Homo sapiens: one gene and its partners. The protein of the gene in region 5 purifies or fractionates together with the protein of the main gene of each other region. This does not show direct contact. Each region holds a gene or a part of one and is shown on either strand. Other genes may lie near its edges. The genes, in order: NUMBL, KCNJ12, SDCBP, ILK, RHOJ, PRKCI and RELL1.

Region 1 (3,500 bases), on a different chromosome or scaffold from region 5:
CATGGTAAAACCCCATCTCTACTGAAATACAAAAAATTAGCTAGGTGTGGTGGTGCACACCTGTAGTCCCAGCTACTTGGGAGGCTGAGGCAGGAGAATCACTTGAGCCCGGGAGGTGGAGGTTGCAGTGAGCCAAAATTGCACCACTGCACTCCAGCCTGGGAGACAGAGTGAGACTCCATCTCAAAAAAAAAAGAGTATTGGCCAGGCGTGGTGGCTCACGCCTGTAATCCCAACACTTTGGGAGGCCAAGGCAGGCAGATCACCTGAGGTCAGGAATTTGAGACCAGCCTGGCCAACCTGGTAAAACCCCATCTCTACTAAAAATACAAAAAAAGTAGACAGGCATGGTGGCAGGCGCCTGTGATCCCAGCTACTCCAGAGGCTGAGGTAGGAGAATCACATGTGGGGAGAATCACATGAACCCTGGAGACGGAGGTTGCAGTGAGCCAAGACTGCACCACTGCACTCCAGCCTGGGTGACAGAGCGAGACTCTGTCTCAAGAAAACAAAAAAAAAAAACTATTTGGGGATGAGAATGAAAGCCAGAAAAGAGCAGGACCATCTCCTGTGGGTAAAGAATGTGATGTTGGATGAATTCCTTCCTACTTCTGAAGGAAGTTTTAACCATTAAGCAGTAGAATTCCCCAAGTTCAACTTTTTTTTTTTCTTGAGGTGAAATTCACATAAAATTAATCATTTAAAAGTGTACAATTCAATGGCATTTAATACATTTTCAGTGTTGTTTAACCATTGACTTTAGCAGTCCTGAAACATTTTCATCACCGCTAAAGGAGACCCCATCTCCATTCATCAATTCACCCCGTCTCCCCACTACCCCAGCCCCCTGGCAACCACTAATCTGCTTTGTCTCTCTGTGGATTTACCTATTCTGGATATTTCATTTAATGGAATCATATAATATGTGTCTGGCTTCTTTACTTAGTGTAATGTTGTGTTTTTGTTTGTTTTTGAAACAGAGTTTCGCTCTTGTTACCCAGGCTGGAGTGCAATGGAGCAATCTCAGCTCACTGCAACCTCTGCCTCCCGGGTTCAAGCAATTCTCCTGTCTCAGTCTCCCAAGTAGCTGGGATTACAGACATGCACCATCACAGCTGGCTAATTTTATATTTTTAGTAGAGATGGGGTTTCTCCATGCAGGTCAGGTTGGTCTTGAACTCCCGACCTCAGGTGATCCGCCTGCCTCTGCCTCCCAAAGTGCTGGGATTATAGGTGTGAGCCACCCTGCCCGGCAATGTTTTTAATTAATTTATTTAATGACACAGCGTCTCTCTCTGTCATCAAGGCTGGTGTGCAGTGGTGCAATCTCGCCTCACTGCAACCTGGGTTCAAGCGATTCTCCCACCTCAGCTTCCTGAGTAGCTAGGACTACAGGCACACGCCACCATGCCTGGCTAATTTTTTGTAGAGATGGGATTTCGCCATGTTGCCCAGGCTGGTCTCGAACTCCTGGACTCAAGCGATCCAGTCACCTTGGCCTCCCAAAGTGCTCGGATTACAGGCGTGAGCTGCTTGTATCAGTGGTTCATTCCTTTTTTTGAGACGGAGTCTCGCTCTGTTGCCCCAGGCTGGAGTACAGTGGCACGATCTTGGCTCACTGAAACCTCCGCCTCCAACCTTCAAGTGATTCTCCTGCCACAGCCTCCCTAGTAGCTGGGATTACAGGTGCACGCCACCACACCTGGCAGATTTTTGTATTTTTAGTAGAGATGGGGTTTCACCATGTTGGCCAGGCTGGTCTCGAACTCCTGGCCTCAAGTGATTTGCCTGCCTCGGCCTCCTGGGATTACAGGTGTGAGCGACTGCAGTCACACCGTCTGATTCTTTTTGTATGTCAAATTTGTAGGCATTGGACTACTTCAGCATGCACACCATTAAGTAGAATTCGTATTTGTTTCCAGATTTTTTTTTTCTTCAAAGCGAAAGATATGATTGTCTTAGTTCAGGCTGCTATAACCAGATAGTGTAGACTGTGTGGCTTAAATGACAAACATTTGTTTGCCGCAGTTCTAGAGGCTGGATACCTGAGGTCAGGGTGTCAAATGGCTCATTTCTTGGTGAGGGCTCTTTTCCTGGTTTGCAGATGGATGCCTGCTTTCTGTATCTTCACCTCTCAAGGTGGAGGGGAGATCTCTTGTCTCTTTTTCCTTTTTAAGGGCATTAATCCCGGCCGGGCATGGTGGCTCACGCCTGTAACCCCAACACTTTGGGAGGCCCAGGTGGGCAGATCACTCGAGGTCAGGAGTTCGAGTCCAGCCTCACCAACATCATGAAATCCCATCTCTACTAAAAATACACAAATTAACCAGGTGTGGTGGCGCATGCCTATAATCCCAGCTACTTGAGAGGCTGAGGCAGGAGAATCGCTTGAAGCCGGGAGGTGGAGGTTGCAGTGAGCTGAGGTCATGCCGCTGCACTCCAGCATAGCATCAGAGTAAGACCCTGTCCCAGAAAAAAAATAAATAAATAAGGGCATTAATTCCATCATGAGGACCCCACCTCATGATCTAACATAACTTTTATTGTCTCTCAAAGGCCCACCTCCAAATACCAGCACATTGTGGATGAGGGCTTCAGCGTTAGAACTGAGAGAGACACACACGTTTAGTCTATAGCAATGCACAAGCCTTTGGTGTACAGTCAACGAATTTCGACAACTGCATACACCCATGTAACGAAACCCCTATCAATATCTAGAACATTGCCACCACCCGGTCATCCCCTCATACACTTTCCAGTCATTCCCCACCCCATAGGAAACTACCACTATTCTGACTTTTTTTTAGACAGAATCTCACTCTGTCACCCAAGCTGGAGTGCAGTTGCCCCATCATAGCTGCTTGCAGCCTTGACCTCCTGGGCTCAAGGGAACCTCCCGCCTCAGCCTCCCAAAGTGCTAGGATTACAGGCGAGAGCCACCACTCCTGGCCTGTTCTGACTTTTTTTCACCATAGAACCATAGATTAGTTTTGCCTCTTCTGGAATTTCCAGTAAGTGGAGCCACACAACAGGCTCATTGGTTTCTGGCTTCTCTCACTTGGAGCTGTCATTTCCAGCCCTTCCTTGTGGTGCAGATGAGCACTGAGGCCCAGAGAAGTGCAGAGACTCATCCGGGGCAACCCAGTACCTAGCGGCTATAACCCAGTGCCCCTGGCCCCTGTCCGCACTGCCCAGCGCCTCTAACCCCCCCGCCCATCCTCTCCCCATAGGGCGAGAGGCTGAGCCACGCTGTGGGCTGTGCTTTTGCCGCCTGCCTGGAGCGAAAACAGCGACGGGAGAAGGAATGTGGGGTCACGGCCGCCTTCGATGCCAGCCGCACCAGCTTCGCCCGCGAGGGCTCCTTCCGCCTGTCTGGGGGTGGGCGGCCTGCTGAGCGAGAGGCCCCGGACAAGAAGAAAGGTGGGTGTTGCCCCAAGCGCCAGCAGAGCACAGAGTGGGCACAGGGTACCCAGTATCAGGGGGCAGGGAGCTGCAGAGGT
Region 2 (3,007 bases), on a different chromosome or scaffold from region 5:
TAGAAAGCTTTTATTACGATCATTAACATGGTCTTGATTTTTCTATCACAAACAGAGCCTAGCTGGCTCGTGAGCTCGATGAAGTGCGGTCCCAGAGCACCCTGCTTGCCCAGGGACTGTGGTGCCCACACACACGGGGAGAGGCCAGTCCCACCTCGGGGAACCCTCTGGAGCCTTCAGCCAGCTGCTGCATCCTGGCAGACCCATGGAATTCTAATTGTTCTTTTTGCCCCCTGTGAATTAAAAAAAAATTTTTTCAATTGCATGGTAATTTTTTTTTTTTGTAAACAGTCTCACCCAAGCTAAGGTCAAGAAAGCTGAAACCCGGTGTTTCTCCCCAAGTTAAAAACCAGCAAGGAGCACCGCAGCTAGCCAGCCTTGGACAGCAGAGGCTGGGCCCACCATCGAGCTGAGCTGCTTCCCCGCAGGCTGCAGCTCCATCTTCAGGCAGAAGCCCTGGCCCTCGTGGCCTGGCCCCCCAGGAGGCCACTTCTTTGCCCTGAGCCTGTGATAGCCTCTGAGGCCGGGGGCTGCCGCTCTGGCTGCCCCCTCTCCGGCCAAACTTCTGAGGCCGTTGCAAAGAAACATAAAACGACTAAAACGCTACTGAGTCTGCAACCCAGGGCACTGGGCCCGTTCTGCTCAAACCCGGGGCCCCTGAGCGACCGCGGGGCCTCTCCCCAGCCGGGGGTGGATGCTGCATGTCGGCCAAGGTTGGCTCAGATCTCTGACTCCCGTCTGTAGGGCCGCTGCTCCAGGACCCCGCCGCCAGCCTGGAGTCTGTCAAAGTCATGCCTGGCCTGGGGGCTGAGGCCGTCCCGGCTTCGGCCGTCCTGGTCTCCGTCCGCCTCATCCTCCTCGTCACGGCTCAGGAAGGCCAGCTCGTTCTCGTAGCAGAAGGAGTTGGCGCTGGGCAGCAGGAACTTGTTCTCTACCAGATCCTTCGCACTGCAGCGGGGCGTAGAGGGCACCTCATAGGTCTTGTGGAAGTGCGAGTAGTCAATCTTGTACTGGTTCTTCTCCTCGAAGAGCACGGGCTCAAAGCGGTGACCCCACAGGATCTCATTGGCCAGGTAGGAGCTGCGGGCCTGGGTGGTCATGGCTGTGGCCTCCACCATGCCTTCCAGGATGACCACGATCTCAAAGTCGTCCGTCTCCAGGTCCTGCCGGCTGATGCCGAAGAGCGGGCTGGCCTCGTCAATCTCATGCAAGATGGTGATGGGCGACACCAGAAAGATGCGGTCCAGGCCCTTGTCGAAGCCCACATCGATGTCGATCTGGTCCAGCGGGATGTACTCGCCCTCCTCGGTGACCCGCGGCTTGATGAGCTGCGCGCGCACATGGGCCTCCACAATGTGGCTCTTGCGCAGGTTACCCACACGCCACATGAGGCAGAGCTTGCCGTCACGCAGGGCCACCACGGCGTTGTGGCTGAACAGCAGCGTCTGTGCCCGCTTCTTGGGCCTTGCCATCTTGGCCATGATGGCACCAATCATGAAGGAGTCGATGATGCAGCCCACGATGGACTGGGCCACCACCATGAAGACGGCCACCGGGCACTCCTCCGTCACACAGCGCAGCCCGTAGCCGATGGTGGTCTGCGTCTCGATGGAGAAGAGGAAGGCCGCCATGAAGCCGTGCACCTGCATCACACAGGGTGTGCGGCCCCGGCCCTCAGCCGGCTCCAGGTCACCGTGTGCCACCGCGATGACCCAGAAGATGATGCCGAACAGCAGCCAGGAGGCAAGGAAGGCCAGCGAGAAGATGAGCAGCATGTACCGCCAGCGGATGTCCACACAGGTGGTGAACATGTCAGCCAGGTAGCGCTGTGACTTCTCGTCCATGTTGGCGAACTCAATGTTGCACTGGCCATTCTTCTTGACGAAGCGGTTGCGGCACCTGCGCCGCGTGTGCACCTTGCCGTTGCCGAAGCCGTTGGCGCCCGACATGGTGACCAGGTGCAGCCCGTCCTCCTCCGATGACACGATGCTGTAGGGGTTGGCCCGGCTGGCCGCGGTCATCCCGGGGGTTGGGGGACCCTGGCTCGCCCCCAGGCTAGCTCCAGGCAGGGCGGCTCCTGCAACAGAGACGACAGCATGTCTGGCTGGGCTGGTGGCTCCGGGCTCCTCTACCCCCATCCCAGGGCCCCCAGACGTGACTGGAGGACGCTTCCACCCTGATTGACCCACGATCGTGCTCTGGTCTTGCCCAAGCCAGCTCCCCACTCCGCCTTCCCAGTGCGAATGGCCACCCCCTTCGGGCCCCCAGCAGCTCCAGCCAAAAACCTCAGCTCCACACCTCACTCCCACACTGAGGGCTCTGAAGAGTCTATTTAGGATCCGACCCCTTCTCCCACCCTCAAGGCCTGAATCTAACAGTGCCTGCCCAGCCAGTTCGGGGCACAACTTGCCAGCCTCTCTGCCTCTGCCCATGGCCCCCCAGTCTCCATGGCAGCCACAGAGGGCCTGTGGAAGCTGAGTCGGTGCCTATCCCTCCCCTGCTCAATGCCAGAGGCCCCCCAGGACATGCAGGACCTGCACAGGGAAGCTCCTGACCCCTCGGACCTCACCTCCCAGCCTCCTCCAGCGGACTCCCCTTCCGGCCACAGCCCCTGGCCCCAGGCTGTCCCTCAAACCCACCCTGGACACCCTCCCGCAAGACATCCTGCCACTGCCTCGCCACCTTGGCACCAGAGGCCTCCTTGTGCCCCAGGAAGACCCATGTCCCATCCCTGCTATATCCACAGCACTGCCCCTTCTAAGGGCACAATGGCGGCAGCAATAACAATAACGTAGCCAGGGGCACTCAACCATCAACCCCACCCTGAGACCACCACTCCCTAAGGGTAGCACATTTTCTTTTTTTCTTTTCTTTCTTTTTTTCTTTTTTAGACAGAATCTTCCTCTCGTCACCTAGGCTGGAATGCAATGGTGCGATTTCAGCTCACTGCCATCTCCGCCTCCTGGGTTCAAGCGATTCTCCTGCCTCAGCTTCCTGAGCAGCTGGG
Region 3 (3,500 bases), on a different chromosome or scaffold from region 5:
AACTGTGCAAATTATAATTTCGTTTGTCAGTGACTGGAATGACAAGCACCTCATTCCTTCCTGTGTGCCTCCTGCTCCTGTCAGTACTGTGTAAGCCTGGCCCTTTACACTGGCAGCAGCAGTTGGTTCCAGTCTGCAACTTTTACTGACACTCCCAGAACCAGCCTCATTACAACCCCTCAGAGGCACTAGTAGTGTCCCCTCATCCAAGGTCTGAGTCCCAGCTCCGTGGGGCTCTTCCTCAAGCTTCTAGGTTCTGCTAACTCCAATCTCTCTCCTGTGTTATCCCAGTCCTAGGAGAAGCAGCTAGCTATCTGCAATTACATCTATGTCCATTTATGTTTTTTTCAATTTTTCAACCTCTTAAAATACCTACTATTATTTGTTTTCCCAACTGCATCACCACTAACACAAGCAAGTTTTCAATAAATATTTGGTAAATACATAAATGCCAGGTACTGTATATGCATTGGGATATGGCAACAAGACAGACACAGATTTAACTACAATTATAATAAGTGGTACAAAGTGCTATGGTCATAGCAATAACCTTAATAAAAGGTTATCAGACCCATTATAATTAAGCTAGACTCTGGAGTCTAATTACATGGAGCTTTGAATTTCAAAAAGAATGTTAAAAGATTAAGAGCAAAGGCCAGGCACAGTGGCTCATGCCTGTAATCCCAGCACTCTGGGAGGTCGAGGCAGGTGGATCACCTGAGGTCAGGTGTTCGAGACCAGCGTGGCCAACATGGTGAAACCCGGTCTCTACTAAAAATACAAAAAATTAGCCAGGCATGGTGGCGCGCGCTTGTAGTCTCAGCTACTTGGGAGGCTGAGGCAGGAGAATTGCTTGAACCCAAGAGGCGGAGGTTGCAGTGGGCCGAGATCACGCCATTGCACTCCAGCCTGGGTGACAAAGTGAGACTATGCCTCAAAAAAAAAAAAAAAAAAAAAAAAGATTATGAGCAACAAAGATATGATAGACCTATATGTGTATTTCAGAATGATTAACTTAGCAGCGGCTTAGTACTGTCTGAAATAAGTTACTAGAGGAAATTTAAGAGAGTACTATAATAATGAAGGCTAGAAGTATAGAAACCCTGAATATGGTTATAGTAGGACTAGAATGGATAAAAAACAGATAAAATGAATACAAGAAACAGAAACAGAATCAATAGGACTTAGTAACTGACTAAATGCAGAAGACAAAGGAGAACGAACTAGTAAAAGGTATCTGAATCTAAGTCCTAATAAACTCAAAACAGTGTAGCACAAAATGAAGTAGACTATATAAGAAATGATATCCAAAAGGAAGTCTAAAATTTCTGAGAAGTGAGGTTCAATGCTAGTAGTATATCTGTGAGTTAGCCACAAAGAGGAAAGCTTATACTAACATGTAAAGTATGATTTTATATAAATCAAAATTAATTACACTATACATACCCCCTGAAGTGGTGCACCAGAAACCACGGCCACATTTGCACGTATTTCTTCTTCATTTAAACTCAGCCCCATGTATTGAGAGAGCTCTGGATACAGTCTGGGATAGAGATCTAAAAAGTAAATGAATAAATTAAAAAGCACTTACAGAATACACAAAATGAAAACTTCTCTCATTATGGGCTTCTGCGTATTAACAAAATTACACTTAAGTTATAAAATCTAGAATGAATTTAAAGTAGCAATTTGGAAAGGCATCTCCCCATCTCTGTAATAATGAGAAATGGAAAATACAGAAAATGTTTAAAATTCGTAAAATATGAAGACATCTGAACTGAAACAACCAGAGATTCCTAAACACTCAAAAGTAGAAATAACTTTTCCAAATAAACTATCTTGCCTTTCCTGTTTCTTAAAATAAACTTACTTGATTAGGAATTTAGTAAGAATGCCACTGATTCTCCAATTCAGAACAACTGACCAAAATATCTATTTGTCAAGTCAGCTACTTTATAACTCATTCTGTAAACAGGGATATGGAATGATTCTTATGAACAATTTTTTTTGGAAGCTTGTAAATTTATTTAGTGTCTTATCATTTTAATAATTTTAACCACATTCCAATGAAATCCTGGAAATGGTATTTTTAAATATTAACATTATTTCACTTATTAGTAGTTATATACTATTTCCAAAAGCTCTTTTTTACATGAGACTTAAATTATCTGTGACTTAAAATGAATTTTCTATGAGGCACAATGTTATAAACTGTTGTAAGACAAAATGACAGGCCACAAAAACTTATTTAACACTTATTTTGTATCTTAAGTCATAGTATTTAGGAGCTCTGTCCTGAATCCCTCTGAACCTTGAAGAAAAAGGGACCAAAGACAGGATACAGAGAATGAATAAAGGCCTTAAGATTTAGGAGGCTTCCCAAAGAGGAGGTGGTTGGAAATTTCAGAAGCTCCCATAGGAAAGACAGAAGACAATTCAGAAAGTTCAACAGCAGCAGCATGATAGTTCTTAAATGTGAATTCATATAGTTCTCATATGTGAATTCATATATATAATTCATTCATAAATGAATCAGCCACGTTAGGGATTTACAAGTCAGTCTAAAATTAATTTTCATTAAGCCATGAAATACATCCCCATATCCACAGTTCACTATCTTAATTAGAAAAAGGGTTATTTTTTGAAGTAAACTTTTTTTTCTTATTCATAACTATTTGAGCTTAACTACCAATTTTATGCAGCCTGTCCAAAAAAAAATCTTGGATTCCTTATATGAGCAAAAGAAGATAACAATATTTCTGTTCACAGAGAATGAACTCAAAGTATAAACCTACTTCCATCGTGAGGGATAGGAGCAGAAGCTTCTGACAAAATTGCTGGATTGGCAGGGTTTGCAGAAAAAGCAGTTTGAGCCTGAAAAAGAAAAGAAGAAAATTCTAACAATATGCTATACTTACTTTATATTCTTATATAATTTATAAGCTAAATCCAGTACTTCCAAAAAGAAACTAAAACAATGAAGATTTATGTAAGAAAGTTTAATTTCAAACACATCAGCAATACATTTTCCAAAGGAAATCTGCAAATCAAAACTATATTTGATATTCTAAATACTTTTAAGGCTATCACAAAAAAATTGTAGAAGTACCATTCTACATGTCTTATAACCAGCACTTCATAGTGCTGCCACAATAAATTAATATTTTCAAAGTGCATTCTAAAATGAATAAATTTTACATTTTCATTATTCTTTTACTAATTAGTCCAAGTAAAAATATTTTATTTGCATAAGAAAAAACCTTACCCATATTCATATAAAAGTCACATATCAGAAAAACACCTAAAAAATTAATACTAAGCATGTCCCACTGAAATCATCTTTATCTTCATTGCAGCAAGTATAGGAAGGGGTTTATGCTAAATACTTTTAAAATATCAGAAATTATGAAAATAGCACAGTTTATCACTGACATAAATCGATGATGACAAGGTAATGTAATTTGTAACTGTTAAACAAACTTGCCAAAATCACTCTGACA
Region 4 (2,298 bases), on a different chromosome or scaffold from region 5:
CCTAAGAGTGTGGGCAGGTCAGGTACCCAGCTTCACCCTAACCCAGCCCCAAGAGGCCAGGATTATTTCCTTTTACAACCCTTCTTCCCACAGTGGTGACTCACGGGGCCGAGTGCGGGTGGTCCCCTTCCAGAATGTGTCCTTGTATGGAATACGGTTGAGATTCTGGCCCATCTTCTCTGCCCGCTCTAGGGAAGAAAAACAACCTAAGCTGTGGTACAGAGGGAGAAGACAGGTGGGAAGGGACGAGAGGACACAAGCTAGGGGATGGGGAGATGGACCTCGGAGAAGCTCTCTCAGGGGTGCCTTGGCTTTGTCCACAGGCATCTCTCCATACTTGTTACAGATGCTGACAAGGGCCCCATTTGCCACCAGGTCCTGGAATGAAAAGGCCATTATGATGAGAGCCACTGCTACCTCGCTGGCAGTCACTGAACCAACCATGAATGCACAAATGTAGAACTTAATCCTGTAAGTGTCACACAGTAGTACTGACAGAATGGGTTGAGGGTTCCAAAATCTCCCACCAAGGCTCAGACTTTACTTCCTACCCATCTCAGGAATTAAGGGCTGAGTACTCACCTCTGCCACTTGATCTTGGCCCCAAAAACAGGCATAGTGCAGGGGCACATTCCCGTGTTCATTCACTGCATTGATGTCTGCCTTGTACTGCAATAGCTGGACCCCATGGCCAGACAAAAAGAAGAGGCAGAAAGTACAGTCAGTTCCAAATGAGATACTGGTGTCAGGGCATGGGAAAAGGGGGAAGAGCACACATGCTTTCTACTGTATGTTACAGTGCCTGTGACTGACCCTCATGGCATGTATGTGATGTGGATGACGAAGGAGTTTGTACGTACCTTCTGTACAATATCACGGTGTCCATGACTGGCTGCCAGATGCAGGGGGGTGTCATCCCCACGGTTCATTACATTGATCCGTGCCCCCCGCATGATCAACATCTCAACCACAGCAGAGCGGCCCTCTCGGCAGGCCCAGTGCAAGGGGGAGAAGCCATGATCGTCCCTTTGAGGAAGGGGCAATGGTCATTGAGCTGGAGGTGGGATGGGGCAAAGGTTTTGATTCCTGAAAAACTGATAATTACATACTCTCTGGGAAGGCTTACCTCTCTAGGACTTTGATTCTCATTCATGCCAGCAACTCCCAAAGCTGTCCATTTCAGACCTTCCCCTGAGCTTCAAACCAAACCAACCACCTAGATATCTCAACAACCTCTATAAAAAAATGTGTTATCTTCACCATATCCCACATCTCATTTCCTTAGGTGGTAGTGCTCTTCCCCTGGTTTCTCTTGCACCCCTTCTGCAACATCTATTGGTCCTTTCTGTTTTCCACCACATCTTATATGTCCCCCTACTTCAGCACTTGTTGCACTGGATTGTAAAAATCTGTTAATGGACTGTCTTGTCTGTTAGACCTTTAAGTTTCTTGAGGGAATGGATTGACAGCAGCTGTTCAGTGCATGTTAGTGGGGGAGAAGGGTGTCTTGGAGAAGGCAGGCCACAACTTATAGAAGAGGGAACAAACTTACTATTTGGCTCTGGTACTGAAACTAACATCTAAAAATGGAATGGAATTTAAATGATGTTTTGGAAGGGTTTATGTTGAAAAGGAGAAATGCTTTTGACTACTGATGAGGTAGATAACAAACCACCATGCAAAGCAGGATTCCCCTACTTAGCAATCCTGTGCATAGAAAACAGAAGAAAATGAGAATGGCTGTTTTGGGATTAAAACTATACCTGATTTTTTTCTTTTCCAAGAAATATGTATTTTATAAAGTAAAGTATACAAACAAAACAAAACAATTGGTTTGGAGCTGGGCCTGCCTGACAGCCTGGGGCCATAAAAGGAAATTCCCTCCAGTTCGGGGCTGCAGATTCAAGGGGCGGAGCAGGGGGCGGTCCGTGGTCTGGGCCAGCAGCCTCCGGATGCCTTAGTGTTGTGGTCACTTCCTGTGTGCGACTCTAGGCAAGGCCTGGAGCTGATCAGGGGTCTGGCCATCCAGATGCCCGTACAGCTGAAGGGGTTGGGGGGTGTGGCCTTTAAGTTAATCATTTTCCTCCACAACTTGCTCGCATCTGCTAACACAGAAATAGCCAAAAGCTTTTCCTTGAGATGGGATTATCCCCAGGAAGCATTACGCCCCCTGTTTATCAGTTGGTCTTGCCTCCTAGACCTTTAATTTGTGCCCTGACTTATCAGCTTCCAGTACTGCCTGTGGCGCCAGGGCAGGCCAAACTCGGGGGGCAAAAGTATGGGCACAAGGGTTCTGTT
Region 5 (3,500 bases):
TATTGTAGTCCCAAGTTTTATAAAAGACATCAAGTAAGGCCAGCAATAGAGGAATCAAGTTTCTTTTTCGGGTTCCCTGGGGTGATTTCCTATCAGCTTCACGTTCATGAGCTGGGGATTTGTAAAATGTGAGATGGCCTTTGACTTTGTTTTTGATGCGATCAGCAGCGGCACTGTCTGCAATCCAGGCCCAGCATTCTCAGACAGCGTGCAGTACGGATGCTTCTGGCTGGCAGGGAGGTCGTGGCAGTGGGCTGACTAGTGTGCTGTGTTGGGAGGGCTCAGAGGGTGATGGGGCAAGCCTCCGTGCAAAGGGAGTTCCTTTCTGGTCGTGCCCTCCTTTTTGGCTGGAGCTTGGCCACAGAGATTGGCTGCCATTCTCATCCCTGGATGGGGTGGAGGCAGGTCCCAGACAACCTCAGATAATTGAACAGCAGCTGTGACCCTCAGAACAGCGTTTCTTCTTTTTCTTGGGGTGGAAAATGGTGAGGATTGCTTCATCAAAAACCGCTTTGAGACCTTTCTGAGTCAGAGCTGAACATTCCAAGTAGCACTGTGCTCCGATCTTAAACACAAAAGAGAGAAAGGCATGAGAGATAAAAAAGAGAGAAAAGCACAGTGGTATCAACTCACTGCCCAGACAAGCACTTACTTCTGCCTGTCCTACAAACAGCCTGTGGGGTGGTTTGGATTATGTTTGTCTTTTTTTTTTTTTTTCCATTTCAATTTGTATCTGCTATCCTATTTTTTTTTTTTTGTATTTTTGTATTTTTTACTTTCCTTTATTTGCAATAAATGGTTGTGGATTACTTCTGGAAAGCAGTAAATCCTAAAATTGACCCATAGCCATTTATTCCTAAGAACATAAAAAATGCAAAGATCTAAAAAATTAGGAGACAATTCAAAACCAATGATATAATTTAAATATGTTTTGTGAAGAACAGGGGTGCATGATCTTGTTTTTCATATCCTCTCATTTGTAGGCAGAATGTGTAAATCATGTACAAGTGAAATGTATCTTCTTTGGTATGATAAAAGGCAAAGTGTCAGCTTGGTTGATAAAGCAGATAGAAAGAGAGTGAATGATATGGTTTTATAGGTCATTCTTGATTAAAATGTACCTCTTTTAAGGTATCCCTCAACAAGGTAATATCCAATTGGCATTATTATTTAGTTTTAACATACTTTATTTATTTATTTTTGAGATGGATTTCGCTCTTGTTGCCCAGGCTGGAGTGCAGTGGCACCATCTTAACTCTGCAACCTCTGCCTCCTGGGCTCAAGTGATTCTCCTGCCTCAGCGTCTCAAGTAGCTGGGATTACAGGCGTGTGCCACCAAGCCGGGTTAGTTTTTGTATTTTTAGTAGAGACGGGGTTTTCCCATGTTGGCCAGTCTGGTCTTGAACTCCTGACCTCATGTGATGCGCCCGCCTCAGCCTCCAAAAATGCTGGGATTACAGGCATGAGCCACTGCAGCCAGCCTTAACACACTTTAAAAGGCATATTTTTTAAAAAGTTAAAAAAAAAACCCACTAAAACATGTAACAATAACAATAAAACATGTAACGATAATCATAAAAGACATTTAATGCCAGAGACATCCTGTCAGTGTACAGTCTATATATTTAAATGATAAGGTATTTCATACTTGCATAGGGCTTCATTTTAAATATTCTGATGATTTCATACTATGGTGTGTTTGATAATCACAAACCTCTCATGAGAAATATAGAAATTCAGGCCAGAACTATAGATTCTCATTTAAAAATCACAGACCAGGGCAGACCATATTTAGCAGTCAGCTTCTTGTGAAGGAGACCTGCGGTTTTATTTGTTCATAAGCTCAGGAAGAGTCAATGATGTGATGTTGGCCTTTTACTATTAAGGACATCTGGAGAAATGACTTTAGTTTTTGATTCGCATTTTAAGAATCACTTTGAAAAATTAAAGCAGATTCAGAAGAGGTTGGCTAAATGGCGAGTTCCTGGAAACTACAGCAGACAAATGGCTAAAACAAGGTAGCAAAATCATAGGCCTATTATGCCCAATAGCTTATGTAAATGATAAAGTGGGGCTGGCGCAAGACAATAGGGAGAGGAGGGGACTATGGTGGGCTGTAAAGCACATGCCCCCTCTAGGGTGTGCAGTCTTATCAGCTTCCAAGTGGTAATGTTGGTTTACTATTGCCCATTTTTGTATTTTTCAAGAGGAGTTGGACATTTGGATTTTTTATTTAATATTTACCAGTTTATGAACTATTTACCATGGGCCAAGCAAGACACTGATGTGGGATATATTTGGCAGCAGCCAGCCAGTTTGCAATGTGTGGACTAAGTGAACTTGTGGTTTAGCTTAGAACAGAGCGGGAATAACCCCAGAGAGGTAAAATGAATTGCTTATGGGCACTCACCTAGAAAGTGAAAGAAATAGACCCAGAATCTGGGTCTCTTGATACATGTTCATTTCCTTGCTCTGTGGCAGTAACTGTGACCCCTATCACTCAGCTCTGCAAGAAGCTGGTCAAGTTGACAGTTAATGAAATGAGATTGTCCACTTATTTCAAAGGCCACAAATATGAAAACTAACCATCAAATAAAGTGGTTTTGGTTGGGCCCAGACACTATTTCCTAAACTCTCCGACAGAGATTATGCATTTTTCATTTTTTTCCTGACAAGAATGGTTACTGAATGAGCCAAGGGAAAATACCAAAAGAAAACGATGTTGGATGTTGAAAATCTATTTTATGGCTTTCATTTTGACCATGGTTTGGTTTTCAGATTAGAAAATAACTTTTTTAAATAATTAAAAACAGTTAGATACAAGAGAGGAATAAAGCGCAGAGAAAATTTTCCTAATAACATAATGAAATGCCTTCTATTGCATTTTGGGACTGTGTTCAATGCTTGATTCAAACACATGTGAAAAGCACATTAATCTAATGGCAACAGCGTTGCCAACTGAATGATTCTGAATGACTTGACTGTAACGTGGTGGCACTTGTCTGGAAAATACCTAGAAACTGCTGTAGCACCTTTCTATCTGGAATACCTCTCCACTAAGGATCCCAAGCCTAGGATTGATTCTGCCTGGAATTCCAGGACAGCTGGGCTGAGCTCACTCACACCTGGAGTCCTGCAGGAGGGGCAGGGCACTCCCCATCCTCCTGCCCCCAGTGTGCAGCTGACAGCATGTCAGGCTTTGCCTTTCGATGGAGCGGGAGGAGCCCAAGCTTGTCTCTTCCAATTCAGACATTTCTGAAGATAATGAAATAGCAGATAAAGGCATTATTGTGTAACTGAGTTAATATGACATTATGTTGTACTGATAGAAAAAGTAGTCATCAGATTATTGGTGTCATTTGGGAAACACGTGTGAGAAACAATCCAGTTATGAGGTAGGTATTGTTACCATGTGTCAAGTGCTATGAGGGTCGGAGAAGAATTCATCCCGGTTCAAGGAAAAAGCACAGCCAGATTGCTAAAAAAAATGATCTGTGTCC
Region 6 (3,500 bases), on a different chromosome or scaffold from region 5:
GATATCACTGATGGCAGTATTATTAGCAGGAAGTTATAAGCCTAACACTGTTGCATCCTCCATGATATCAACTTCATGAATTAGGGCAGAAAGGTTCTAACTGTGTAATATGACCAAAAATATGAAGCCCAGTAATCATTCTACTATCTTTCAATCTTACCTGCTTTCTGTCTGAAAGCAAGAATGCAGCCCAACAAGGAAAGGATGATTGGATGCCTGCTCAAACACATGCTTCTCTGTCTGTACCCAATCAATATCCTATTTTGAAACATGTAAGAAATCTATGTCAAACTGATATCACAATTAATGATAAATTTGCTCTGAGCAATTCAATGGTCACAAATGCAATGGTTAACTAGGCTAAATATCAAAACCATTGATAATCATGAAACGAAAATTTACATACAAAGAGAAAAATAACACTAGTCAATCTTTCAGTATTATAAAACTGTCTAGAAAACTTTTACAAAGCTCAAGTATTTCTCCTGATAATAATGTGGTTTGATTTTTGTTTTTTTAAAAAAATCTAATAATCAAATTACTTTAAATATCTTATACCATCTATAAGAAAAGTAAACCGAAATAATATATTTCATTTACTTAGCACATATTTAGAAAAGCAGAATGAGATAATAAAGCACAAACATAGAGGTTTTCTTTAAAATAGTACTCTTGGCTGGGTGCGGTGGCTCACGCCTATATTCCTAGCAACTTTGGGAGGCTGAGGCGGGTGGATCACTTGAGGTCAGGAGTTCAAGAGCAGCCTGGCCAACATGGTGAAACCCCATCTCTACTAAAAATACAAAAATTAGCTGGGCATAGTGGTGCATGCCTGTAATCCCAGCTACTTGGGAGGCTGAGGCAGGAGAATCACTTGAACCTGGGAGGCAGAGGTTGCAGTGAGCCAAGATTGCACCACTAGCACTCCAGGCTGGGTGACAAGAGCGAAACTCCGTTTCAAAAAAAAAAAAGAATAGTATTCTCAAGCAGTTTAGAAGCAATAAAATATGCAGTGCTTACCTCATCATCATTAACAAGCTCTTTTTTCACAACTTTCATTGCATAAATACGATCTGTTTTTTTTAATCGAACCAACAGTACTTTGGCATAACTTCCTCTTCCTATTACCCGGAGCAAATCAAAATCCTGAAGACCTAGACTGGATGAAGCTTTGCCACTTTCCCTGGTGTTCATTGCCTGTTGAGAACATTTGTATCAGAGTTATAATGGGAAATGCTTTGCGTAGTACATTATATTTCTAACACCTAGTTGTACCTATAACGATTTAAAGATATTTTCCTAACATAAAAATATTTTAAGTTCTTAATATTTTTCAAATGTCATTCCAAACCAAATAATCTAACTATCCAGATTATATGGATGAATTTTGAGATAAGAGGGATGGTAATAAGAATGGGGAGGGAGTTGAAATCACAAAAACATCGAAGGATGTCTTAAAAAGGATACGATAACTTTTGGGTACAGAGGCAATAGAGATGCAGGAATTAAAAAAACACATTAACCTTGGTGACCAAGAGATTGGGGGTACCACTGACAGGGAACGTCAAGTGTGTGGCTAGGATAAGATTGACAAAGTTACTGGAGAGAACGATTGGGTTTTTCATGATAAATTCAGAAGTTATAATGAGACATCAAGATGAAAGAGTCTGCTGGAAGCTTGATACATAGAATGTAAGCTAGTGAGAGCACACATTCAGAGGCGTTTTTGGATGCTATAGACAGAAAACAAGCATGAAGTAGTTCAGCGAATGGAAGACATTCTTTTCCACAGAATACCAAGACCCCTTTGGGACGACAAAGTAAGCCTTAAAATTCATTCACAACTACAAATGTAAGCTTCTAGCAATTTACAGAGAAGCCTGAAGACAGTCTTTTATTAGATGCCTGCAAAATCATCAGCACACAATGGACCCATGAGAATAAAGTATGAAATCTCTGAAGTGAAGAATACCAAGAAAAGCAAATAGTAAATTTTGAGAAAGATAAAGAAACCCGCAAGCACAAAACTGAAAGAAGGGTATTAGAAAAACTGAGTGAGAATGACAACTTAAAAACTTAGAAATAATAATTTAGGCTGCGCACAGTGGCTCATGCCTGTATTTTCAGCACTTAGGGAGGCTGAAGCAGGTGGACTGATTGAGCCCAGGAGTTCAAGACCAGCCTGGGCAATGTGCCAAGAAACCTCATCTCTACCAAAATATACAAAAATTAGCCGGATGTTGGTGGTGTGCACTGTAGTCCCAGCTACCTGGGAGGCTGAGGTGGGAGGATCACCTGAGCCAGGCAGGTCAAGGTTGCAGTGAGCTGTGATTGTGCCAGTGCGCTCCAGCCTGCATCACAAAGTGAGACCCTGTCAATAATAGTAATAATAATAATAATTTGATTTGGTAACAAGGTGATAGTTTGTATATCTGACCCCTCCAAATCTCAAATCTCATGCTGAAATGTGATCCCTAGTGGGAGGTGTTTGGGTCACAGGGACAGATTCCTCATGAATGGCTTGGTGTGTTCCTGTGTAATGAGTGAGTTCAGAGTGTGGCACCTCCCCTGACTCCCTTGCTCCCTCTCTTGCCATGTGGCACACCTGCTTCCCCTTTGCCTTCTGCCAAGACTGAAAGCTTCCTGAGAAGCAGATGCTAGTGCAATACTTACTGATCAGCCTGCAGAACCGTGCACCAAATAAATCTTGTATAAATTACCCAGCCTTAGGTATTCCTTTATTCCTTCCTTCATTTATTTATTTATTTAAGAAAAGGTCTTGTTCTGTCACCCAGGCTGCAGTGCAGTGGCACGAACATAGCTCACTGCAGCCATGAACTCCTGGGCTCAAGTGATCCTCCTGCCTCAGTCTCCCAAGTAGCTGGGGCTACAGGCATGTGCCTCCAAACCCGGCTAATTTTTATTTATTTTTTGTAGACATGGAGGGTCTTGCTATGTTGCCAAGGCTGGTCCTGAACTACTGGCCTCAAATGATCCTCCCGGTCTAAAGTCCTAGGATTATAGGTGTGAGCTGCCACACCCAACCTTCAGGTATTCCTTTGTAACAACACAAAACAGACTAACACACAAGGGTAAATACAGCAGAGTGAAAAGAAACCAGGTTTGAGAAGGTTAAGAAAGAAGAGAAGTGTAAGAAAGTAAGTCAACACATAGACTTGAAATATGGCTAACTGGAAACTATAAGAGAGAATCAAGTGGAGCAAAAAAGATAGAGTTAACTTCACCGACACAATAATAAGGCTGAATGAAATGATAGACGCCACTTAACAGTGAAATGTCATCTTCAAAGGGCCTAAAAAAGAAGAAAACAGCTGACCTAGAATTCTCTATCCTGCAAAAGTAGCTCACAAAGTGAAAGTGAAAGAAAAACATTTTCAGACAAAGAAAAACTGAGTGGATCCATCACTACTAGGTGCTCACTAAAGGAAAAACTAAATTGAGTTCTTGAAGGAGAAAATGCATGATCTCAGATGGAGGAA
Region 7 (3,500 bases), on a different chromosome or scaffold from region 5:
TGAGGAGGGCGGAGAAGAATTTTATTGAGCTATGAAAATGGCTTTCAGCAGAGAGGCAATGTGGGGCTCGGGGGAATGGTTCTACTTGAAGTTCCTCCTGTGTGGCTGGGTCTGGGGCCTTTTATGGACTCAGAATGGGGAGTGAGTGCTGATTGGTTTGTGAGGAAAGCGCACCAAACAGGAAGACAAGTCCTCCATCTGGTCCGAGGATTTAACTTGTAGCTTGGCTTTCAAGCTTTAAAATTCTTCAGCATGGAGGTGGGGTTTCACCAGGGACCCAACCCTGTCTGCCTGGGCATTTGACTGCCTCCTGCCACTCTCAATTACAATACGGATTCTTTTCTCACCAAAATTCTCTTGAGAAAGCTTATATTTAAATGTCTCTAGCTTTCCAATTTCTGGGTTTCTTGAGCAGTGTGTGTGAACCTCCCTTGATGTAGAAAACCTCACTTTATCCTTTCAGAGTCAGGATATTCCAAATACTGAAGCTTTGTTTCAGTCAAACCCCACAGTTTTCTTTGGTCCTCATCTACCTGACTCCCCTCTTCATTTTGTATTTCTCTCCTCATTTTTCCATGGCATGGTGCTCTGCTGATTCTTTTGCTACACGGTATGTTCTTCCTGAACTCCTGGCCTCAAGTGATCCGCCTGCCTTGGCCTCCCAAAGTGTTGGGATTATAGGCATGTGCCACTGTGCCCAGCCTAAATATTAATAGTGGTAGCTAACACATTTATAGTGCTTACTGTGTGACAGGAACATATATAAGGCTAACTTTTTAATACTTTTTAATTTAATTTAATTTTTTTTTTTTTTTTTTTGAGACAGTCTTGCTCTGTCACCCAGGCTGAAGTGCAGTGGTGCACTTCTTGGCTCACTGCAACCTCTGCCTCGCAGGCTCAAGCAATCCTCTCACCTCTGCCTCTCCAGTAGCTGGCACCACAGTTGTGTACCACAATGCCCAGCTAATTTTTGTATTTTTAGTGGAGACGGGGTTTCACCATGTTGCCCAGGCTGGTCTTGAACTCCTGACCTCAAGTGATTCGCCCCCTCCCCCCACCCCCTTCAGCCTCCCAAAGTATGTTCTTCCTGCGATCTCAGTTGGCCACATTGTATAATTGTGTGCTCCAGGCTCACTGCTTTCTGGAGTCCCTGTGGCACCCCTGCAGGCTAAGATATCAAACTGTCTCTCATATATATATTCATGTGATACTTTGACATGTCTAAAGGCAAAAACTTCCCTTTTCTCCAAAAGATGCCCACTTCAAAGCTTCCCTATTCTTGAAGTCATAAAGTAGATCCCCACTGTTCTTTTCTCTTCTAGTGCCCCGTGTTTTCCTTCCACAGCATTTCTCACAATCTGTCACGATCTGCCCGTGTATACTTGTTTAATGGCTGTTTCTGATGCCATCATATACGAGCCTCAAGATGGCAGGGGCTACGTTACGTTGTTCATCACTCTATCCAGTTCCCACCCAGTGTGGTGCTTGTCACATAACTGGCATGCATTCAATGTTTATTGGGATTAGTGAACAAATAAACAAGTGCACTCACTTCCATTTTTATGTTTGCACCCCAGGCCAAGATCTTGATGCTATCCCTGACTTTTCCCTCTTCTTCATACTCTAGATCTGCTAGTTTACTAAATCCTCCTAGAATGTAAGCTGCATGAGGACAACAAATCTCCGCCTGTTTTGCTCAGTGTGATGAACCTGCATCACAAGTGCCTAGAATGGTGCCTGGCATGTGGGTGAATATTTGCTATGTTGCTTGCTAGTTTACACGTAATAATTTATTTCATCTTTATAACAATCCTAGAAGGGTGAGTAGGTAGTATTTGTATGCCCATTTCATAAGAAACCAAGGCATCAAGATGTTAAGTTCTTGTCCATTGTCACACAGCTGCTAAATGGTGGAGCTGGGAATTGAACTTGAGTGTTCTGAGGCCATGCTCTTAATCACTAAGAACTGTGCTATAATGTAATGTAGTGTTTATGTAATATTTGTAATGTTACATGTAGTGTTTATGTGTTCATTCTGTGTTTGTAATGTTACATGTAATGTTTATGTGTTTACTCTGTGCTGGACACTTCACGACAACCCTGTATACTCATTCCACAATGAAGAAGAAGCTGTCTTCAAAGGATGTTTTAAAAAATGACCCAGCATGGGACCTGGTTCATGAGTAGCAGAGTTAAACTCAGACTGTTTGAGCTCAAACCTGGGCTATCTTTTGCCTGTGCAGCTGGACCCACCAGTCTGCATGGCCTGTGGTTTCGGGAGCAGACCCTGACTTACTGTGAACATTACCTGAGAGTCATTAGGTTTTTCTTGCCCTGGACAGATATCTAATGCAGCATGCATGTTTCTTTCTGTAGACAATGGGAGCAGCCGCACATTGCACTCCAGAACAGAGACGACCCCGTCGCCCAGCAACGATACTGGGAATGGACACCCAGAATATATTGCATACGCGCTTGTCCCTGTGTTCTTTATCATGGGTCTCTTTGGCGTCCTCATTTGCCACCTGCTTAAGAAGAAAGGCTATCGTTGTACAACAGAAGCAGAGCAAGATATCGAAGAGGAAAAGGTTGAAAAGATAGGTAAATAACCAGGGCTCTTTTTATTGGGGGTGAGGAGACAGTTTTTAAATATGAAACCAGTGATATATGCTTTCCATCTCTCTGAGGCAGAATGATCCATTTTAGTGGCAGGTGGTGCAGTGTAGTGTAAGTGCAGATTGTGCAGTAATCACACCTAGTTTGAAAACTTGCTTTCATTACTGAATACCTGCCAGATAGGGCACCCTTTCTTGCCCTGTGGCCTTAGACAAGTTATTGTGTGCTCTGAATCTCTGCCATGTATAATTTCACTTAAATGTATTTTTAATTAATTTAATCTTATTCATTTGACATTTTAATTTAATTTCAATGAGGAAAATAATCCTTACCTTTTGGGGTTTCTGTGAAATTTAGAGGAAAGATGCATTTGGTATTTGGAATATATGACTACTCATTAAATATTAATCCTTACTATTATTATGGAATCAGATTCGAATAAGAGTGAAGGAAAAATTAAAATAGGTCTCCCCATGTTTGTGGTGTTACTTTTGCTGGGGGAGTTCTATCTTAAATATTTGTGATTGGAATTTATGTTTATTAAGTAAACGATCGTGTGCACAGTGCAGAAAAAAGTATGACAAGAGCTGGTGCCTTAGTACTAACTTCAGGCTGTCTCATCTGTTTCTCCTAATGTGGAGTCATAAGGTAGTGTTTAGAAAAACCGGGGAGACGAAATCCTGTTTTCGCCACTGATGTTTCTTTCCCATCATCTTTAGGGATGTTTCCTGACTTGGGCCTTGAGAGGTAGTAGGTGACTCCCCCTATTCCTTTCAGCCCTGCTAAGGGCAGTTTCTGCAGAAAGGTGACATTGGAGTAGGTCGCCCTTCAGGCAAAGCAGGGCTGGCTGAGGGGAGGTTCCTCGTTCCTTGCCAGCTTGCTGG

Evidence for each region.
Region 1: the proteins of RHOJ (region 5) and NUMBL purify together in Homo sapiens (affinity purification with mass spectrometry, with the first as the bait; one large-scale study listed by BioGRID). This does not show direct contact.
Region 2: the proteins of RHOJ (region 5) and KCNJ12 purify together in Homo sapiens (affinity purification with mass spectrometry, with the first as the bait; one study listed by BioGRID). This does not show direct contact.
Region 3: the proteins of RHOJ (region 5) and SDCBP purify together in Homo sapiens (affinity purification with mass spectrometry, with the first as the bait; one study listed by BioGRID). This does not show direct contact.
Region 4: the proteins of RHOJ (region 5) and ILK purify together in Homo sapiens (affinity purification with mass spectrometry, with the first as the bait; one study listed by BioGRID). This does not show direct contact.
Region 6: the proteins of RHOJ (region 5) and PRKCI purify together in Homo sapiens (affinity purification with mass spectrometry; 4 studies listed by BioGRID and IntAct, with this or other methods). This does not show direct contact.
Region 7: the proteins of RHOJ (region 5) and RELL1 purify together in Homo sapiens (affinity purification with mass spectrometry, with the first as the bait; one study listed by BioGRID). This does not show direct contact.

What each region holds. Positions count from the first base shown.
Region 1 is NC_000019.10:40,677,152-40,680,651, reverse strand, and holds part of NUMBL (numb-like protein), read left to right. Parts: intron 1-3,230; coding exon 3,231-3,420; intron 3,421-3,500. UniProt on the Homo sapiens protein: Plays a role in the process of neurogenesis. Required throughout embryonic neurogenesis to maintain neural progenitor cells, also called radial glial cells (RGCs), by allowing their daughter cells to choose progenitor over neuronal cell fate.
Region 2 is NC_000017.11:21,414,357-21,417,363, reverse strand, and holds part of KCNJ12 (ATP-sensitive inward rectifier potassium channel 12), read right to left. Parts: intron 2,078-3,007; 5' UTR 2,022-2,077; coding exon 720-2,021; 3' UTR 1-719. UniProt on the Homo sapiens protein: Inward rectifying potassium channel that probably participates in controlling the resting membrane potential in electrically excitable cells. Probably participates in establishing action potential waveform and excitability of neuronal and muscle tissues.
Region 3 is NC_000008.11:58,570,261-58,573,760, reverse strand, and holds part of SDCBP (syntenin-1), read right to left. Parts: intron 2,875-3,500; coding exon 2,796-2,874; intron 1,557-2,795; coding exon 1,447-1,556; intron 1-1,446. UniProt on the Homo sapiens protein: Multifunctional adapter protein involved in diverse array of functions including trafficking of transmembrane proteins, neuro and immunomodulation, exosome biogenesis, and tumorigenesis.
Region 4 is NC_000011.10:6,606,774-6,609,071, reverse strand, and holds part of ILK (scaffold protein ILK), read right to left. Parts: exon of another isoform or gene 1,027-2,298; coding exon 861-1,026; exon of another isoform or gene 679-860; coding exon 583-678; exon of another isoform or gene 379-582; coding exon 282-378; exon of another isoform or gene 189-281; coding exon 105-188; exon of another isoform or gene 2-104; coding exon 1-1. UniProt on the Homo sapiens protein: Scaffold protein which mediates protein-protein interactions during a range of cellular events including focal adhesion assembly, cell adhesion and cell migration.
Region 5 is NC_000014.9:63,287,943-63,291,442, reverse strand, and holds part of RHOJ (rho-related GTP-binding protein RhoJ), read right to left. Parts: intron 3,256-3,500; coding exon of another isoform or gene 3,193-3,255; exon of another isoform or gene 3,126-3,192; intron 566-3,125; coding exon 419-565; 3' UTR 1-418.
Region 6 is NC_000003.12:170,277,924-170,281,423, reverse strand, and holds part of PRKCI (protein kinase C iota type), read right to left. Parts: intron 1,198-3,500; coding exon 1,021-1,197; intron 259-1,020; coding exon 161-258; intron 1-160.
Region 7 is NC_000004.12:37,648,377-37,651,876, reverse strand, and holds part of RELL1 (RELT-like protein 1 precursor), read left to right. Parts: intron 1-2,376; coding exon 2,377-2,601; intron 2,602-3,500. UniProt on the Homo sapiens protein: Induces activation of MAPK14/p38 cascade, when overexpressed. Induces apoptosis, when overexpressed.